Regions from separate parts of the Homo sapiens genome. Here region 1 is linked to region 2. Evidence: fine-mapped expression QTL. A gene starts in region 2. The other region holds a variant in brackets. All regions are shown on one strand. Distances are between the middles of the regions. Region 1 overlaps DTX2 (deltex E3 ubiquitin ligase 2). Region 2 holds the start of DTX2 (deltex E3 ubiquitin ligase 2).

Region 1 (4,379 bases), 21 kb after region 2:
CCGTCTGCAGCTTCATCGAGCAGCAGTTTGTCCAGCAGAAGGGCCAACGTTTTGGGCTTGGGAGCCTGGCCCACAGCATCCCCTTGGGCCAGGCAGACCCCTCGCTGGCCCCTTACATTATTGACCTCCCCAGCTGGACCCAGTTCCGCCAGGACACCGGTAAGACGCTGTCTGCCTCTCGCACATATCTGGGTGCCGCACCTGCTTTCCCACAGGCTCTGCGCCAGGTGTTGGGGTGATGGACGTGACTTACAGAGCTTCTGCTCTCTCCCTGCAGCACACGTGGTGGTGGGTGGGTGCAGTGAGTGGGAACATCCACATAGGTTGAGTGCAGCTCACAGTGGGAGAGGCACTGTGGGAGGCCCTTCCCCTTGTCTTGCAAAGCAGAAATGCCTGTCCCGACCACAGAGGTTGAAGGGTTCCTTTGGCCGGCAGGCCGGCATGGAGGTGGTGCGTCATAGGAGTTCAGAGGGCCCTGTCCCACCACTCAGTGGCTGTGTGCCCTGGGCAGGCAACTGCGCCCCTCTGCATGTGTGCGTTTCTGCTTTTTGGTCTGCGATGTGTTTTGATCTTTTTTTTTTTTTTTGAGACGGAGTCTGGCTCTGTTGCCTAAACTGGAGTGCAGTGGCGCAGTCTCGGCTCACTGCAACCCCTGCCTCCTGGGTTCAAGCGATTCTCCTGCCTCAGCCTCCCGAGTAGCTGGGATTATAGGCATCCACCACCACACCTGGCTAATTTTTGTATTTTTAGTAGAGACGGGGTTTTGCCACGTTGGCCAGGCTGGTGTCGAGCTCCTGACCTCAGGTGATCTGCCTGCCTCGGCCTCCCAAAGTGCTGGGATTACAAGCATGAGCCACCGCGCCTGGACCTGCAGTGTGTTTTGATCAGTATTATTGAGAATGAGGCACCAGTTTCCTCTCGGAGCCATCCCTTACTCTAATCTGGTGGTTGTCACTGGGGGTGATTTTGTCCCCGGGGCCATCTGACAATGTTTGGAGACATTGTTGGTTGTTACAGCTGAGTGGGTGGGAGGTGGGGGTGCTCCTGGCATCTGGTGGGTGGAGGCCAGGGATGCTGCTCGCCATCCGGCAGTGCACTGGGCTGGCCCTGCAGTAAGGAATTATTGGCCCACAGTGTCACCAGTGAGGAAACTTGAAAAACTGGTTTTTCCTTTTTTTTTTCAATTTTAATTTTAGTTTTATTTTTAAAAGTATGGGTTTTTTTTTTTCGTGTTTGTTTGTTTGTTTGTTTTTTGTAAAGACTGGGTCTCCATTGCCCTGTGTTGCCCAGGCTGGTCTTCAACTCCTGAGCTCAAGTGATCCTCCTGCCTTGGCCTCCGAAAGTGTTGGGATTACAGGCTCGAGCCGTCATGCCCAGCCCTGGAAACTATGTGTTTCCAGGAGTGTCGTAGAGTCTGTGAAAACTGTGGCTGTCAGTCAGCTCCCAAGTCGTTGCCTTCACAGTGTGTGAAGTCAACTGAGAAAGATAGCAGACAGGATAAATAATAACATGGAAATTGCATATCGTGGCAGAGAGCAGGAAGTGTTAATCGGGGAATGAAAGTGGCAGGTGTTGTAGAGGTCGATTTGAAGTTAGCTGGGTGTGGTGTCATGTGCCTGTAGTCCCAGTTATTTAGGAGGCTAAGGCAGGAGGATCGCTTGAGCCCAGGAGGTCAGGGTGGCAGTGAACTATGATCACATCACTGCACTGCAGCCTGGGCGACAAAGGGGTACCCTGCCTCTAACAATAAATAAATAAACAAATAGCAGCATGACTGTGTACCTACTGTGTTCCTATTTGTTTATTTTGGCGGTTGAAAAAAGAATTTGAACGTTCCCTGTATCTTGGGGATGCTAGCAGACTAACCTTTTGTTTTCCTTTGAAAATAGGCACCATGCGGGCTGTGCGGAGACACCTGTTCCCCCAGCACTCAGCCCCTGGCCGAGGTGTCGTCTGGGAGTGGCTGAGCGACGATGGCTCCTGGACTGCCTATGAAGCCAGCGTCTGTGACTATCTGGAGCAGCAGGTGGCCAGGGGCAACCAGCTCGTGGACTTGGC[C/G]CCCCTGGGGTACAACTACACTGTCAACTACACCACCCACACGCAGACCAACAAGACTTCCAGCTTCTGCCGCAGCGTGCGGCGCCAAGCAGGGCCGCCTTACCCGGTGACCACCATCATCGCTCCGCCGGGCCACACAGGCGTCGCCTGCTCTTGCCACCAGTGCCTCAGTGGCAGCAGAACTGGCCCCGTGTCAGGCCGCTACCGCCACTCCATGACCAACCTCCCTGCATACCCCGTCCCCCAGCACCCCCCACACAGGACCGCTTCTGTGTTTGGGACCCACCAGGCCTTTGCACCGTACAACAAACCCTCACTCTCCGGGGCCCGGTCTGCGCCCAGGCTGAACACCACCAACGCCTGGGGCGCAGCTCCTCCTTCCCTGGGGAGCCAGCCCCTCTACCGCTCCAGCCTCTCCCACCTGGGACCGCAGCACCTGCCCCCAGGATCCTCCACCTCCGGTGCAGTCAGGTATCGTGGGCAACGGCCGCTCGTTTTGTCTGCCCTGTGTTTCCGCTCTTAGCCGGGAAGACTCACCCCAATTCCTGCAGATGCGGCTCCTGCCCCCTAGGTGGTCCTGCCGTGGCATCTCATTTGCATGTGGCATGTGGGTGCCGAGGTGCCGTGGCCATCCAGAGCCTACCTGACCCCTTGTACCTGAGTCCTGGCGGTCACCACACGGGTTAGAATCTACAGTCCTTTCACTCATGATGATTAAGGGCCTCCACATGGAGCAGAGTTAAAGGCCTGTGGCCTCTGCTTGCGGGCTGCATGGCGAGCATTGTGCCCGAGAACACTGGGTCACTGCCTGTACACTGACTCCCGCCTTGTGCCAGGCCCTAAGGACCCAGAGACCAGAGTATCAGCCCTTACCCCTGAGCCCTAGTCTAGTGCAAGGGGCTGTCAGCGCGGTGTGAGGGAGGGCAGAATGTGGAGCACGTGGCAGTGGCTGCAGGTGGCATGGGTGACCTGGCCCCCGTGATGATGCAGCCCAGCCCAGAGTGCCTGGTAGAGCGCTCAGCTCCTTGAGAGAGAGAGAATGATACCACGGGCCCAGTGCAGACCAGAGCGGGTGGCATTTAAAATGAGGAGATTGGTCAGGCACAGAGGCTGACACCTTTAATCCCAGCACTTTGGGAGGCCAAGGCAGGAAGATCATTTGAACCCAGCAGTCAGAGACCAGCCTGAGCAACATAGCGAGACCCCATCTCCACAAAAAAAATTTTTTTAATTAGCCAGGCATGGTGGTACACACCTGTAATCCCAGCTACTTGGGAGACTGAGGCAGGAGGATTGCTGGAGACCAGGAGGTCAAGGCAGCAGTGAGCTGTGATCGCACCACTGCACTTCAGCCCCCTAGGTGACAGAGCGAGACCCTGTCTTAAAGCTGGGCCCAGTGGCTCACGCCTGTAGTTCCAGCACTTTGGGAGGCCGAGGTGGGCGGATCACCTGAGGTCAGGAGTTCAAGACCAGCCTGGCCAACATGGTGAAACCCCATCTCTACTAAAAATACAAAAATTAGCCAGGCATGGTGGCCAGCGCCTGTAATCCCAGCTACTTGGAAGGCTGAGGCAAAAGAATCCCTTGAACCCAGGAGGTGGAGGTTGCAGTGAGCCAAGATCGTGCCACTGCGTTCCAGCCTGGGCAACAAAGAGCGAAACTCCATCTCGGGGGAAAAAAATAAAAAAGATAAAATGAGGAACCCCCCCAGGATTTCCCTGGATTTGGCCAAGGTGAATGGGCTGGCCGTAGCCCTCTGACTGTCTGGGTGACTTGGGGCTTCGTCATTCATTATTGAGAATGTTGGGCTTGGAGCACATTTTGAGAATTCAGAGTGGTAGCTGGGACAGGGCTTTCTGAGAGTGCCCTGGTGCGGGTGGTGAGGGAGTGGGTGGGCCTGGGGCCACCCTGGTCCCAGGGAGGAAATCATCTCCTTTCTCCGCACTGGCCCTGGTCGGCATCCTGCTGCCTCCCTGCTCACCGGCCCACCCCTGCCCACCGCAGCCACGTCAAGGGCTGAAACTTCACAGGGTGGTTGAGACCGCCTTGGCAGCTTCTTGGACCTCTAGTATTTGTTCAGACTGGGTTTCCGAGGACCCTGCCAGCTTGTGTAAGACACAGTGACAGCGCCTCCCGCTCATTGGTTCGTGTCATGTGCCAGGCCCTCCTGAGCAGGCTGCTTGAGTGACTTCACTCATCCCACGATGCTCTCAGGCTGAGCAGTGTTCTTCGCTTACAGGAGAGCACATTCAGGCCCATGAGGTTGGCGACACAGCCAGCAAGTAGCGGAGCTGGGATTCAGCCCAGACCCCAAGAGTGGG
Region 2 (4,379 bases):
TCATTCCAGGTAAGTATCTTTAACTGGGTACTTGGTCCTCCAAGATTCAGAGGACCTTGATCCCCCTGAAACTGTATACATAATATTCAACATACATAGTATGTGCACACATGTGCAAACACTCACATTATCTAAAATTCATCATAATCTTACCCCGGCTTCTCCCCACACTCCTCAGATCCTGCTATAGCCTAGTGCATTTTCTCCTTCCTCACTCCCTTCCCTCCATGTGTCCTCTGCCCTGGCCACCAGGAACTTTGTGCTGCCTCCGGAGTGCATGAGGCACTTTCACATCTCTCTTGCTTTACAAGAGCTTCCCTATGCTCCAACTGGCAAATTTCTCTATGGACTGAAAAACCCACATAGCCTTTATCTGTCTTGTGATGTCTTCTCCCCACCCTCAAGTTAGGCATACCCTTCTATGCCCTCCTTTATCCAAACATTTTCCCCACTATATCGTAATTGTGTGTTTAAGTGCCGGACTTTCCAACTAGATACAAAGCTTTCCCAGGAAAGAAATCCTTTTCTTTTCTTCTTTCTTTCTTTTCTTTTCTTTTCTTTCTTTTTTTTTTTTTTTTTTTTGAGACAGATTCCCACTGTGTCGTCCAGGCTGGAGTGCAGTGGCACAATCTTGGCTCAGTGCAACCTCCACCTCCAGGGTTCAAGTGATTCTCTTGCCTCAGTCTTCCAAGTAGCTGGGATTACAGGCACGCGCCACCACACCCAGTTAATTATTATTATTATTATTATTTTTTTTTTTTTTTGAGACGGAGTCTCGCTCTGTCACCCAGGCTGGAGTGCAGTGGCACAATCTCGGCTCACTGCAAGCTCCGCCTCCCGGGTTCACGCCATTCTCCTGCCTCAGCCTCCCGAGTAGCTGGGACTACAGGAGCCCACCACTACGCCCGCTTAATTTTTTTTTTTTTTTGTATTTTTAGTAGAGACGGGGTTTCACCGTGGTCTCGATCTCCTGCCCTCGTGATCCGCCCGCCTCGGCCTCCCAGAGTGCTGGGATTACAGGCGTGAGCCACTGCGCCCGGCCTCCACACCCAGTTAATTTTTGTATTTTTAGTAGAGACGGGGTTTCACCATGTTGGCCAGGATGGTCTCAATCTCTTGACCTTGTGATCTGGCTGCCTCGGCCTCCCAAAGTGCTGGGATTACAGGCGTGAGCCACCGCTCCCGGCGAGAAACCTTTTCTTTTTCTTTTTTCTTCTTCTTCGTCTTTTTTTTTTTTTCTTTTGAGAGGGATTCCTGTTCCGTCGCCCAGGCTGGAGTGCAATGGCGCGATCTTGGCTCACTACAGCCTCTGCCTCCCGGGTTCAAGCGATTCTCTTGCCTCAGCCTCCCGAGTAGCTGGGATTACAGGCACGAGCCACCACGCCCGGCTAGTTTTTTTTGGTATTTTTAGTAGAGACGGGGTTTCGCCATGATGGCCAGGCTGGTCTGGAACTCCCGACCTCAGGTGATCCGCCCACCTCTGCCTCTCAAAGTGCAGGGATTACAGGCATGAGCCACTGCGCCCAGCCAAGAAACCATTTCTGATTCACCTATTCACTCCCGCACTCCCACTACACAGTAGCTAAATAAATAAATAAATATTAAAAATAAATAGGAAAGAAAGAGAGAAAAAAAGAAAAGAAAAAGACAAAAATTTAAATTTAAAAAGGTTGTGCTCGATGGCTCACACTTGCAACCCCAGTGCTTTGGGAGGCTGAATGAAGCAAGAGGATCGCTTGAGGCCAGGAGTTTGAGATCGGCCTGAGCAACGTTGCAGCATTGCAAAACCCCCATCTGTACAAAAAAGAAAAATAAAATTAATTTTAAAAACAAAAAAAGAGAAACAGTAGCACATGTATGTACTGGCACCATGTATGTACTAGTAAAAACTAGTTAAAATTAAGTCAGTAATTAATGAAGGAATAAGTCAATGAGTGAGCAGGCGAAGGAAGAAAACATAGACCGGAGCAGGTGCGCCTTGGGTTGAGCCCTTCCCCGCTGAGCCCCGCCTTCTGCCCGCCCCTGGGCCCTACCGGGACTACATTTCCCAGAAGGCCGCACGCCCCGGGCATGCGCAGCGGCTCGCTCGGAAGCTGCGACGCCGAGTTTCACTCTGGCTGCCTTCTCCTGAGAGTCGGAGCCACAGCCAGAGCCCTGCCCAGGCCGAGCCGGAGCTGCAGCCCGAGCGCGGTGGTGCCCTCAGCCCCGTCCTCTTGTCCTCCTCAGCCTCGGTGAGAGGGCGGGAAGGCCACCTGCGCGTCGCTAGGGCTGCGGTCCCAGGGGCGCGGGGTGGCGCGGGGAGCCGGAGCCTAGCTGGGACCGGAAGGGGGCGGGCGTGGGTGTGAGGGGGACCGACGGCCGGGGCGGCGGGGACACCCGGGGGTCCCGGGAGATCGGGGGTGTCGGGGGGATCGGTCTCCGGGATCAAGGTCCTGAGGGCGAGAGTTGGGGGACTTGGGAGGCGCCGGCAGCTTTGGACGGGACAGGGTGCCGGGTGCGAAAGGGGACGTTCGGATGAAGGCTGAGGGGCTCGCAGGCGGAGGGGCGCGGTTCCGGGTCGCTCGGAAGGCGCGCACCCCTTCCCAAAGTACCCAGAGGAGGGGGTGACGAGATTGCCACCGGCTCCCTGACGAGGGGTTGGTCCTGCTGGGGTCTACCCCCAGGTGAAGGGACTCACTGGGCCGGGGGTTGTACTTTGGAGGAGTTTGCTTCCTAACTCTGCTTCCCTGCTTTCCTGTGGGGGGTCTTCCCAGGAGTTCCTGGGGCCCTGGGTCACTTTTTGGGGTGCGTAAGGGGTGCCGAAAAAGATTTAGAACTCGGTTCCCTTTTCTGGAGCTGCGCTTTCATCGCGACTGTCTCAGCCAGCTGCCCTCCTCCTCCAAGCTGGCTCCACTTCTCTAAGCGCCAACAGCGATGGAAATAAATAGCATGTGTACAGACGCCTGGACCCTTGAGAAACTCAGAATATTTCTGCATGCCTTCCTAGCTCCTCTAGCGCTCTAGAAGGTAGACTTTCTGGTAGCCACCATCCGGGCTTAAGCCATCCGGATAGCAAGCCCTCTGATTCGGTTGCTCTGTGACCTTAAATATTTACCCTCTCTGGTGTGTTGATTTCCTGGATGCTTAGCTGCCAGACTGGCTTATGAAGTCCTTTTAGAGTTTTCTGTAAAAGGGCTCAGGCCAGGCACGGTGGCTCATGCCTGTAATCCCAGCCCTTTGGGAGGCCGAGGTGGAAGGATCATTTGAGTCCAGGAATTTGAGACAAGCCTGGGAAACGAAGAGGATTCCTGAGATCACTGTCTCTATAAAAAATCAGATGGGCGTGTTGGTGGGTGCCTGTAGTCCCAGCTACTTGGGAGGCTGAGGCAGGAGGATCGCTTGAGCCCAGGAGTTGGAGGCTGCAGTGAGCTGTGATCACACCACTGCACTGCAGCATGGGCGACAGAGGGAGACCCCGTCTCAAAAAACAAAAAACAAACAAACTAAAAAAACGAACTTTTTTTTTTTTTTAAGAAAAGGGCTCAGAGCCAGGCGTGGTGACTCGAGCCTATAATCCCAGCTACTCGGGAAGCTGAGGCAGGAGAGTAGCTTGAACCTGGGAGGCGGAGGCTGCAGTGAGCCGAGATCACGCCACTGCACTCCAGCTTGGGTGACAGAGCAAGACTCCGTCTCCAAAAACTAATAATAATAAAAAATTTTAAAAAGAGCTCAGGGTTTTTTTGTTTGTTTGCTTTTTGTTGTTTCTTCAACCATCTCCTTGATTGTTAAGTGGGTGGAGGAAGACTGTTGTACCTCCTGCTCCACCCAGGCTATTGGAAAATAAATCTGGTGATTTTCAGTCCCCAGGCACAGCACACGGATCCAACATCTGTACCTTTGTTTTTACTAACTGCTGTTTCTTAATTTAAAACCTGATCATCTTCTTCCTCGTTGGCAAAGGTGCCTTGGAATTTGTGTCGCTGAGTCAGCAAGCCTTTCAGATTTGCCCGGTTTTTGTTGTTTGTGGTTTGTATCAAGATGGGAACTCAAACAAGTCATTCCTCCTAAGGAGCTGGTGTCTTCATCCAGAAGGGACAGTTTGTGCCAGCTCTCCAGAGAGAAAAGGTGAGAGCCATGGGGACTTGACCTTGCTGCCTTCTCTATCTGGTGCAGAGAAGGTGGGGATTGGGGAGGGTGGAATTTGAGGTCTGCAGGATAAACGTGTGCCCTGGGAGTTGACTGTTGATTGCCACCTGTCTCAAATAAATTGCAGTGGCGTCTTGCCACTGCTTCTCCTGTTTAACTAACTAGTCTTAGAAGATGCTTTCCACTTTAAGACATGCTTTATGGGATAGAAGACACAAGTCACGATTTCTGCATTTGAAGTGGCAGTTTTCATT

What was found. PIP is the estimated chance that this variant, and not a neighbour inherited with it, causes the effect.
Region 1: its variant is the best candidate, but not a certain one, in a credible set for the expression of DTX2 in whole blood (INTERVAL, PIP 0.74).

Annotation. Positions count from the first base shown.
Region 1 is chr7:76,480,619-76,484,997 of GRCh38, forward strand. It overlaps DTX2 (deltex E3 ubiquitin ligase 2), which reads left to right. Exons shown (of 11, transcript NM_001102594.3): 3 at 1-159; 4 at 1,890-2,529. Among named protein-coding and RNA genes, the nearest start is that of DTX2, 21 kb to the left of the region's middle. The variant C/G (reference allele first, on the strand shown) is at 2,059.
Region 2 is chr7:76,459,606-76,463,984 of GRCh38, forward strand. DTX2 (deltex E3 ubiquitin ligase 2) reads left to right here and starts at 2,104. Exons shown (of 11, transcript NM_001102594.3): 1 at 2,104-2,231; 2 at 3,940-4,104.